Regions from separate parts of the Homo sapiens genome. Here region 2 is linked to region 1. The links come from fine-mapping of genetic effects on gene expression. A gene starts in region 1. The other region holds a variant in brackets. All regions are shown on one strand. Distances are between the middles of the regions. Region 1 holds the start of PRR13 (proline rich 13). Region 2 overlaps SP1 (Sp1 transcription factor).

Region 1 (4,385 bases):
GAACACATGGACACAAGGAGGGGAACAACACACACTGGGGCCTGTTGGGGGGTAGGGTCAGGGGAGTGAGAATATTAGGAAAAATAGCTAATGCATGCTGGGCTTAATACCTAGCTGATGGGTTTATTGGTGCAGCAAAATTTGTGCAGCAAACCAGCATGGCACACATTTAACTATGTAACAAACCTGCACATCATGCACATGTACCCCAGCACTAAAAATAAAAATTAAAAGAAAAAAAGTTTAAAATATTTCAAATGCTTTAGTTTAATATGACATATTTGGCATAAAATTTATTGTCTTAAATTTTTTTGTATCCCACTTTTTTTTTTTTTTTTTTTTGAAACAGAGTCCTGCTCTGTTGCTTAGTCTGGAGTGCAGTGGCATGATCTTGGCTCACTGCACCCTCTCCCTCCCAGGTTCAAGCGATTCTCATGCCTCAGCCTTCCCACTAGCTGGGATTACAGGTATGTGCCACCATGCCTAGCTCACTTTCTTTCTTTCTTTCTTTCTTTTTTTTTTTGAGATGGAGTCTCGCTCTGTTGCCCAGGCTGGAGTGCTATGGCGTGATCTCGGTTCACTGCAACCTCCCGGGTTCAAGCGATTCTCCTGCCTCAGCCTCTCAAGTGGCTGGGATTACAGGCACATGTCACCACGCCCGGCTAATTTTTGTATTTTTAGTAGAAACGGGGTTTTACCATATTGGCCAGGCTGGTCTCGAACTCCTGACCTTGTGATCCGCCTGCCTCGGCCTCCCAAAGTGCTGGGATTACAGGCGTGAGCCACTGCGCCCGGCCACTTGTATTTTTTTTTTTTTTTTAAAGGCTGGGTACGGTGGCTCACGCCTATAATCCCAGCACTTTGGGAGGCCGAGGCGGGCAGATCACGAAGTCAAGAGAGCGAGACCATCCTGGCCAACATGGTGAAATCCCATCTCTACTAAAAAATAGAAAAATTAGCCGCGTCTGTAGTCCCAGCTACTTCGGAGGCTGAGGCAGGATTATCGCTTGAACCCGGGAAGCGGAGGTTGCAGTGAGCCGAGGTCGCACCACTGCACTCCAGCCTCGTGACAGAGCGAGACTCCGTCTCAAAAAAAAAAAAAAAAAAAAAAAGGGAGGCCATTGTAGGGAGGCCATTGTAGCAATTCAGGGGAGAGATGAATCCAGGCGACAGATGATGGGAGGTTTGGAGCAGGGAAGACAGAGAGAAGTGGAGAGATTCCAGATATATTTGAGAGACAAAACTGATAATTTGGGGTAAGGGAGGTGAAGGAGGCAGAGGGATCACGGACGCCCTCCTTGGTTTCTGGTTTAGGCTACTTGACAGATGGCGGAGCTATGCAATTGAGAGAGGGAATCCTGGGAGAGATTATGAAATCTCTGTATCTTCCGCAAGAATGTTTGTTTGCTTCCCTTGCGAGTGTAAGACGGAGCCGGGAACATTGAGGCTTGGGGCTGGGACTCAGCAGCTCTTCTGCCCTTGCCGAGAACTCTGTCTATATCTGTATTACAACACTTACCATAGTGTATTCATTTTACAAGGTATTGCACCCAGTGAACCATGAGGTAAGAGAGCAAGGGAAGAGTTTCTTCTCGGTGTCTCTAGGACTTTGCCCAGCAGCTGGCCCCGCCCCCTCCAGCGCTCTCCGCCTAGCCCCGCCCCCAGGAGATTTCCGGCTTCTCGGTACTGGCCTAGCCGTAAAGGGCTCCGCTCCGCCCCTAGAGCAACCGTTTCCTCCTCAGTCGGACCAGAGTGATTGATTAGTTTGTTGTCTAATCATCAGTCGAGCGGCCACATAATTACCAATTAGGCAGTAGCAGAGGCGGGTGCCGAAGCACGGGGTCTGGGTGACTAGGAAGAGCCGAGACTGCGAAGGAGAACGCAGCAAGCCCAGGCGGCGGTGGAAAGGTGATGGGGTATCTGGATTCCATAGGTTTTTCCTTTTCCCCTTGCTAGGTCAAGAGTCTCTTCGCAGCTTGGGGCTAGGATCTTCATTTGCCTTTTTTCTTTTTTGGAGGAAGGGGGCTGTGTCCACATATTTAAGTATTTGAGGTTCTTGGGCAACTTCCTTCTTACTTCGCCTCGAGGCGTATCCTTTTTTTAGCCTGAGGTGGGGTCCTCCCCAGGGAGAGAGAAAGTTGTTTGAGATCCTTTCTTACTCTGTGCGTGGTTAAAGGCCTCCGTACTCAGTTCCAGGGAAAGGGAGATGAGTGATGGTGGGGCCGAGACTCGCGGGTACTGCCTACTTCCGAAGAGTTAGACGCTTCCACCTGGGTGGAGGGGCCCTGGGAACTAGATTCCTGTGTTAGGAACCAAGTAGGTATTGAGGGCGAAGAAACAAGTGGAAAGAGACATTTCTTTTCTTTTCTTTTCTTTTTGAGACGGTGTCTTGCTCCGTCGCCCAGGCTAGAGTGCAGTGGCGCGGTCTCGGCTCACTGCAACCTCTGCCTCCCGGGTTCAAGCAATTTTCCTGACTCAGCCTCCCGAATAACTGGGATTACAGGTGCCCGCCACCGCGCCCGGCTAATTTTTAGATTTTTAGTAGAGACGGGGTTTCACGATGTTGGCCAGGCTGGTCTCGAACTCTTGACCTCGTGATCCACCCGCCTCGGCCTCCCAAAGTGCTGGGATTACAGGCGTGAGCCACCGCGCCCAGCCAGAAAAGAGACATTTCTTATGTGGAAGTTGTGGTAGTTCTCCAGGTAGGAGAGCCTACTGTGGGGTGGAAGACGTTAGGGCTGGGCTCCGGTGCTAAGTCCACTTCCTACCTCTAGACCGTCATCTTTTTTGCCTCATTTCTTTCTCCTCAGGCTGGAGGACACACCTAAACATGTGGAATCCCAATGCCGGTAGGTGTTTGGGGGTTCTGTTCCACCCCTAACCCTTTTTCTGATGGGCTCTATAACAGGAAGTTTCTGTATCAGCTCCCCTACCCCCGACCTGCTGTACCCGCAAAAGCAAAGTCCTTAGTCTAGAGCTGACCAGTGCTTTTTAATTTAATTTAATTTATTTATTTTTTGAGATGGAGTCTCTGTTGCCCAGGCTCACTGCAACCTCCGCCTCCTGGGTTCAAGCGATTCTCCTGTTTCAGCCTCTGGAGTAGCTGAGATTACAGACGCATGCTATCACGCCCGGCTACTTTTTGTATTTTTAGTAGAGATGGGGGTTTCACAATTTGGCCAGGCTGGTCTCAAACTCATGGCCTCATGAGATCTGTCCACCTCGGCCTCCCAAAGTGCTGGGATTACAGGCGTGAGCCACCGCGCCTGGACTGACCAGTGCTTTTGTCTTCCTCAGAGTTCACTGTCTCCCTCCTCTCCCTAGCCCTTCCAGGGACATTCCCCCTTTTCTCCCCAACTCAAGTTTGTCTCCCCTACCCTCCATTCTTCTTTGTCATCTTTCCGTTTCCCTTTAAGTATTGAGTGAGAAAGAATCTCTTTCTTTTTGTTGTTTGTTGTTGGAGACTCTGGGGAATTCTAATGTTTATTCTCTGCTTCTTCCACCAGGGCAGCCAGGGCCAAATCCATATCCCCCCAATATTGGGTGCCCTGGAGGTTCCAATCCTGCCCACCCACCACCTATTAATCCACCCTTTCCCCCAGGCCCCTGTCCTCCTCCCCCAGGAGCTCCCCATGGCAATCCAGCTTTCCCCCCAGGTGGGCCCCCTCATCCTGTGCCACAGCCAGGGTATCCAGGATGCCAACCGTTGGGTCCCTACCCTCCTCCATACCCACCGCCTGCCCCTGGAATCCCTCCTGTGAATCCCTTGGCTCCTGGCATGGTTGGACCAGCAGTGATAGTAGACAAGAAGATGCAGAAGAAAATGAAGAAAGCTCATAAAAAGATGCACAAGCACCAAAAGCACCACAAGTACCACAAGCATGGCAAGGTCAGTACCCTCTGGAGACTGGCTAGGGAAGGAGTCCCCCCTCAGAGGGACTAGGTAGGCAGGGGTTGGGTGAGGGGGATTCACATTCTGTGGACGTGAGGGATGACAATTGTGTCGCTCTGGTAGATGATTCTTCCTTTTTATAAAAGATTGCTACTGGGAAGAATCTGATTATCTTGAAAATAAACATCAGGCTTCTCCTATCTGGGGGGAGTTAGGGTGAGCCTTAGAATGGATTTTAGAATCAAAAGCCAAATCTTTTCTGCCCTACTCTCCCAGAACTTTTGCTCCCCTCCCGCCAGGTGCATATTCTAGCAAGTTGGACACGCCCACTGACATTGTCAAAATACCAAAGTCATTCCTTTGACAAAGCAAGGTCTTATAATAATTAACAGAATTAATCTGTCCCTAGTTCCAGAAGTTCCTTCTCTCTTTCATCAGTGTTCTTAGGGCGTTGTGTTAATTACATGGGTCCTTTGCCCTATCATCCAGCAGA
Region 2 (4,385 bases), 55 kb before region 1:
ATGCCTATGGGCCCAGCTACTCGGGAGGCTAAGGCATGAGAATTGCTTGAATCTGGGAGGCAGAGGTTGCAGTGAGCCAAGATTGCACCACTGCACTCCAGCCTGGGCAACAGAGTGAGACTCTGAAAAAAAAAAAAAATACAAAAATTAGTCGGGTGGCTGGGCACGGTGGCTCACGCCTGTAATCCCAGCACTTTGGGAGGCTGAGGTGGGTGGGTCACCTGAGGTCAGGAGTTCAAGACCAGCGTGGCCAGCATGGCGAAACCCCTTCTCTACTAAAAATAAAAAAATTAGCCAGGCATGGTGATGCGCGCCTGTAGTCCCAGCTACTCAGGAGGCTGAGGCCAAGAATTGCTTGAACCTGGGAGGCAGAGGCTGCAGTGAGCCGAGATCACATCACTGCACTCCAGCCTGGTTGACAGAGCAAGACCCTGTCTCAAAAAATAAAAATAAAAGGCGGCCGGGCGCGGTGGCTCACGCCTGTAATTCCAGCACTTTGGGAGGCCGAGGCGGGTGGATCACAAGGTCAAGAGATCGAGACCATCCTGGCTAACACTGTGAAACCCTGTCTCTACTAAAAATACAAAAAATTAGCTGGGCATGGTGGCGCGCACCTGTAGTCCCAGCGACTCAGGAGCCTGAGGCAGGAGAATCACTTGAACCAGGGAGGCGGAGGTTGCAATGAGCCGAGATCGCGCCACTGCACTCCAGCCTGGGTGACAGAGCGAGACTCCGTCTCAAAAAAAAAAAAAATAAATAAAAATAAATTTGATTATGGGCTGGGCGCGGTGGCTCACGCCTATAATCCCAGCACTTTGGGAGGCCGAGGTGAACAGATCATGAGGTCAGGAGTTCAAGACCAGCCTGACCAATATGGTGAAACCCCGTCTCTACTAAAAATACAAAAATTAGCCGGGCGTGGTGGTACAAGCCTGTAGTCCCAGCTACTTGGGAGGCTGAGGCAGGAGAATCGCTTGAACCTGGGAGGCAGAGCTTGGAGCGAGCCAAGATCGTGCCACTGCACTCCAGCCTGGGTGACAGAGTGAGACTCCGTCTCAAAAAAAAAAAAAAAATTGATTATGAATTTTACCTGTTTGTAGAACACAGATTAAATCATCAGATATTTCTTGTGAACTGTAACTCCTAATTGAAGGGAAAATGATCTAACGGGTTGCTTTTCAACGAAGTAAGTTCCCTGGTTAGTATTAACCAGAATATCCCACACTCTGAGTGTGCTGGTTAATCAGGATTGAATTTTTTTTTAACTCCTAGTTATCTGAAAAACAAAATCCCATAGCTTCCCTTCACACTAACATATGAGCATCCTAGGTGATTCTGATACTTCTAGGTAGCAGTCTAACTTCCTAGACTGCTTTGAAAGTACTGTGTGTGGTTAGGAAGGGAGAAGGAAAGGGAGTGGGGTAAGTTGGGGTCTGGAATGGAGTGGGGGATGTAGGATTGAGAAGAGTTAGGAATGAGGAGAGCATTGAAGGGAAAAACAGTCTGGGAAGAATATTGAATCTGTTGACCATAATGTTCAGGGTCTTTCATTTTGAACTAAATGTTTCACTATTAATTTGAAATTTAAAACAGTAAACAGATGTAAGTCTATGTAGACTGTATCTTTTTTTTTTTTTTTTTTTCATTTTTGAGACTGAGTCTTGCTCTGTTGCCCAGGCTGTAGTGAGTGGAGTGGTGCAATCTCCGCTCACTGCAACCTCCCCTTCCTGAGTTCCAGTGATTCTCCTGCCTCAGCCTCCCAGGTAGCTGGGATTACAGGCGTGTGCCACCATGCCCGCCTAATTGTTTGTTTAATGGAGACGGGGTTTCACTGTGTTGACCAGGCTGGTCTCGAACTCCTGACCTCAAGTGATCTGCCTGCCTTGGCCTCCCAAACTGCTGGGATTACAGGTGTGAGCCACTATGCCCGGCCTGACTTTATCATTTTAAATTCCATTGTATGGAGCTAATCTTTAATAAAGCACAATAAAAGGATACACATACATCTTTATATGCTGGCACAATTATACAAATACGGAAAATAGTTTAATA[T/C]CACCAAATAATATCACCCAACTTCTAGGTTTGTTTTTTTTTTTTTTTTCGTTTTCTTTTTTGGGACTGACTCTAGCTTGTCTCCCAGGCTGGAGTGCAGTGGTGCGATCTTGGCTCACTGCAACCTCTGCCTTCCGGGTTCAAGCAATTCTTCTGCCTCAGCCTCCCGAGTAGCTGGGATTACAGGCACGTCCCACCATGCCCATTAATTTTTTGTATTTTTTTAGTAGCGATTGGATTTCACTGTGCTGGTCAGGCTGGTCTCGAACTCCTGACCTCGTGATCCGCCCGCCTTGGCCTCCCAAAGTGCTGGGATTACAGGCGTGAGCCACTGCGCCTGGCCACTTCTAGTTCTTTTGGCATATATATGTGGGTTTATAAATTGTTTACTTTTGTTACCAAGTTCTCATTCCATTTAACTGATTCTTACATAAGTGAGGGTAGCAAATAGGCAACCATATTTCCTGCCTCCTGCAGTTTTGGTAAATCTAGGGGGAAAGTCTGCTTAAGTTCCCTGATTTCTTACATTCCTGTGGTGTGTTTAGAAATACTACATGTTGAGCTTTAACAAGACAGTAATTTTCTTAGTTAATTGAAATCTTAGAATTGAAAGTTAGAGCTGGAAGGGACTGAAGTTATTTAGTACAACTGCCTTATTTTCTAGATGAGGAAATTGAGGTACAGAGAATCACTTAATGAGACAACAGCCAGAGCTGAGGCTAGTTTTACTAGTCTAGGGTGCAACCTGTTTTAACTAGGGACTTGAACAATTCTTTAGATTGTTAAAAATGTATTCGAGCCAGCCTGGTGGCTCACGCCTGTAATCCCAGCACTTTGGGAGACTGAGACAGGCGGATCATGAGGTCAGGAGATCAAGACCATCCTGGCTAACATGGTGAAACCGCATCTCTACTAAAAATACAAAAAAATTAGCTGGGCGTGGTGGTGGGTGCCTGTAATCTCAGCTACTAGGGAGGCTGAGGCAGGAGAATGATGTGAACCTGGGAGGCAGAGCGTGCAGTGAGCTGAGATTGTGCCACTGCACTCCAGCCTGGGTGACAGAGCGAGACTCCGTCTCAAAAAAAAAAAATGTATTCGAAAAGGTGTTTTTGATTTAAGATTTAATGCTCTAAAACTGACAGATGTTTATAAAACATTTATAAAAATGTTTTATAAACTAAACATTTATGGGAATAGAAATGGGAAAAGTTTTATAAAAACTGACCTCTACAACGTAGAAAATTAGACACTTCTGGGCAACCTACACCATCATGTTTATTTTCTATTTGCTCTTAGATTGAAGTGCCCGGTTTTGCTCTTCTTCAGAGCAAACTGTGGGATTATTCCTGTTAATAATTTGGATCCTTGCAATTTCTAAAAGGCTTATAACTTAGGGTTTAGAGAACAGTTATGAGGCATTCTCATTGCTAAATCATGCTCTGGGGAAGTCTGCCATTTAATATGTCATAGACTAGGGCTACCTAGTTGTTACTGATGGTGTTTGAGCTGAAGAAAATGCGTGTGTGTTTCTGTAAGGTAAGAGGAGCTTGACATTCACTAAGGAGATAATGAGGCATTGACAGGCTGTTTTGTAAGAGTTGAGATTGTTTGCTTCATTAATAGGGGTTTTTGAAGATCCAAGTTTTCTCCTTTCTGGCTAGTAATAATTGTGTAGTATTTCCCCTTTAATTGATATGACTTCATCCTTAAAGAAAGATAATAAAATCACTTCCTAGAGGCTTACTCCTTTTTCAGCTTTTGCCTTCCTGCTGGCAAAAGTATCTTGTTTTGGCCAGGCGTAGTGGCTCATGCCTGTAATCCCAGCACTTTGGGAGGCCAAGGCAGGCAGATCTCTTGAGCTCAGGAGTTCAAGACCAGCCTGGGCAACATAGGGATCCCCCATCTCTACAAAAAATATGAAAATTACCTGAGCATGGTAGCACACGCCTATAGTCCCAGCTACTTGGGAGGCTGAGGTGGGAGGATTGCCTGAGCCCGGGAGGTTGAGGACGCAGTGAGCCATGATCACGCCACAGCACTCCAGCCTGGGCAGTAGGGTGAGTCCCTGTCAAAAAAAAAAAGTATCTAATTTTACCCCCTTCTCTGATAGTTATTTTACTGTAAAATTTAACCTTTTTGCAGTATGTTCAACTTCTTGGTACGATGTAGAAAGAACATTGGATGTGAAATGTTGTATGATACATGTATATATCACTGTACAAAATGAGATATATTACATGATTGTGGAAGATTGCAGCTTCCATGGTGTTCACTTAGTCTGTTTACATTCATTATTTTTTAAAATGATCTTTTTTTTTTTTTTTTTTTTGGGA

Evidence for each region. PIP is the estimated chance that this variant, and not a neighbour inherited with it, causes the effect.
Region 2: its variant is the best candidate, but not a certain one, in a credible set for the expression of PRR13 in subcutaneous fat (GTEx, PIP 0.85).

Annotation. Positions count from the first base shown.
Region 1 is chr12:53,439,885-53,444,269 of GRCh38, forward strand. It overlaps PRR13 (proline rich 13), which reads left to right and starts at 1,850. Exons shown (of 4, transcript NM_018457.4): 1 at 1,850-1,908; 2 at 2,811-2,849; 3 at 3,507-3,889. The coding sequence starts at 2,831. RefSeq lists enhancers at 822-1,587, 1,318-1,407 and a silencer at 1,698-1,847.
Region 2 is chr12:53,384,856-53,389,240 of GRCh38, forward strand. All of the region lies in intron 3 of SP1 (Sp1 transcription factor), which reads left to right. Among named protein-coding and RNA genes, the nearest start is that of SP1, 6.9 kb to the left of the region's middle. The variant T/C (reference allele first, on the strand shown) is at 2,053.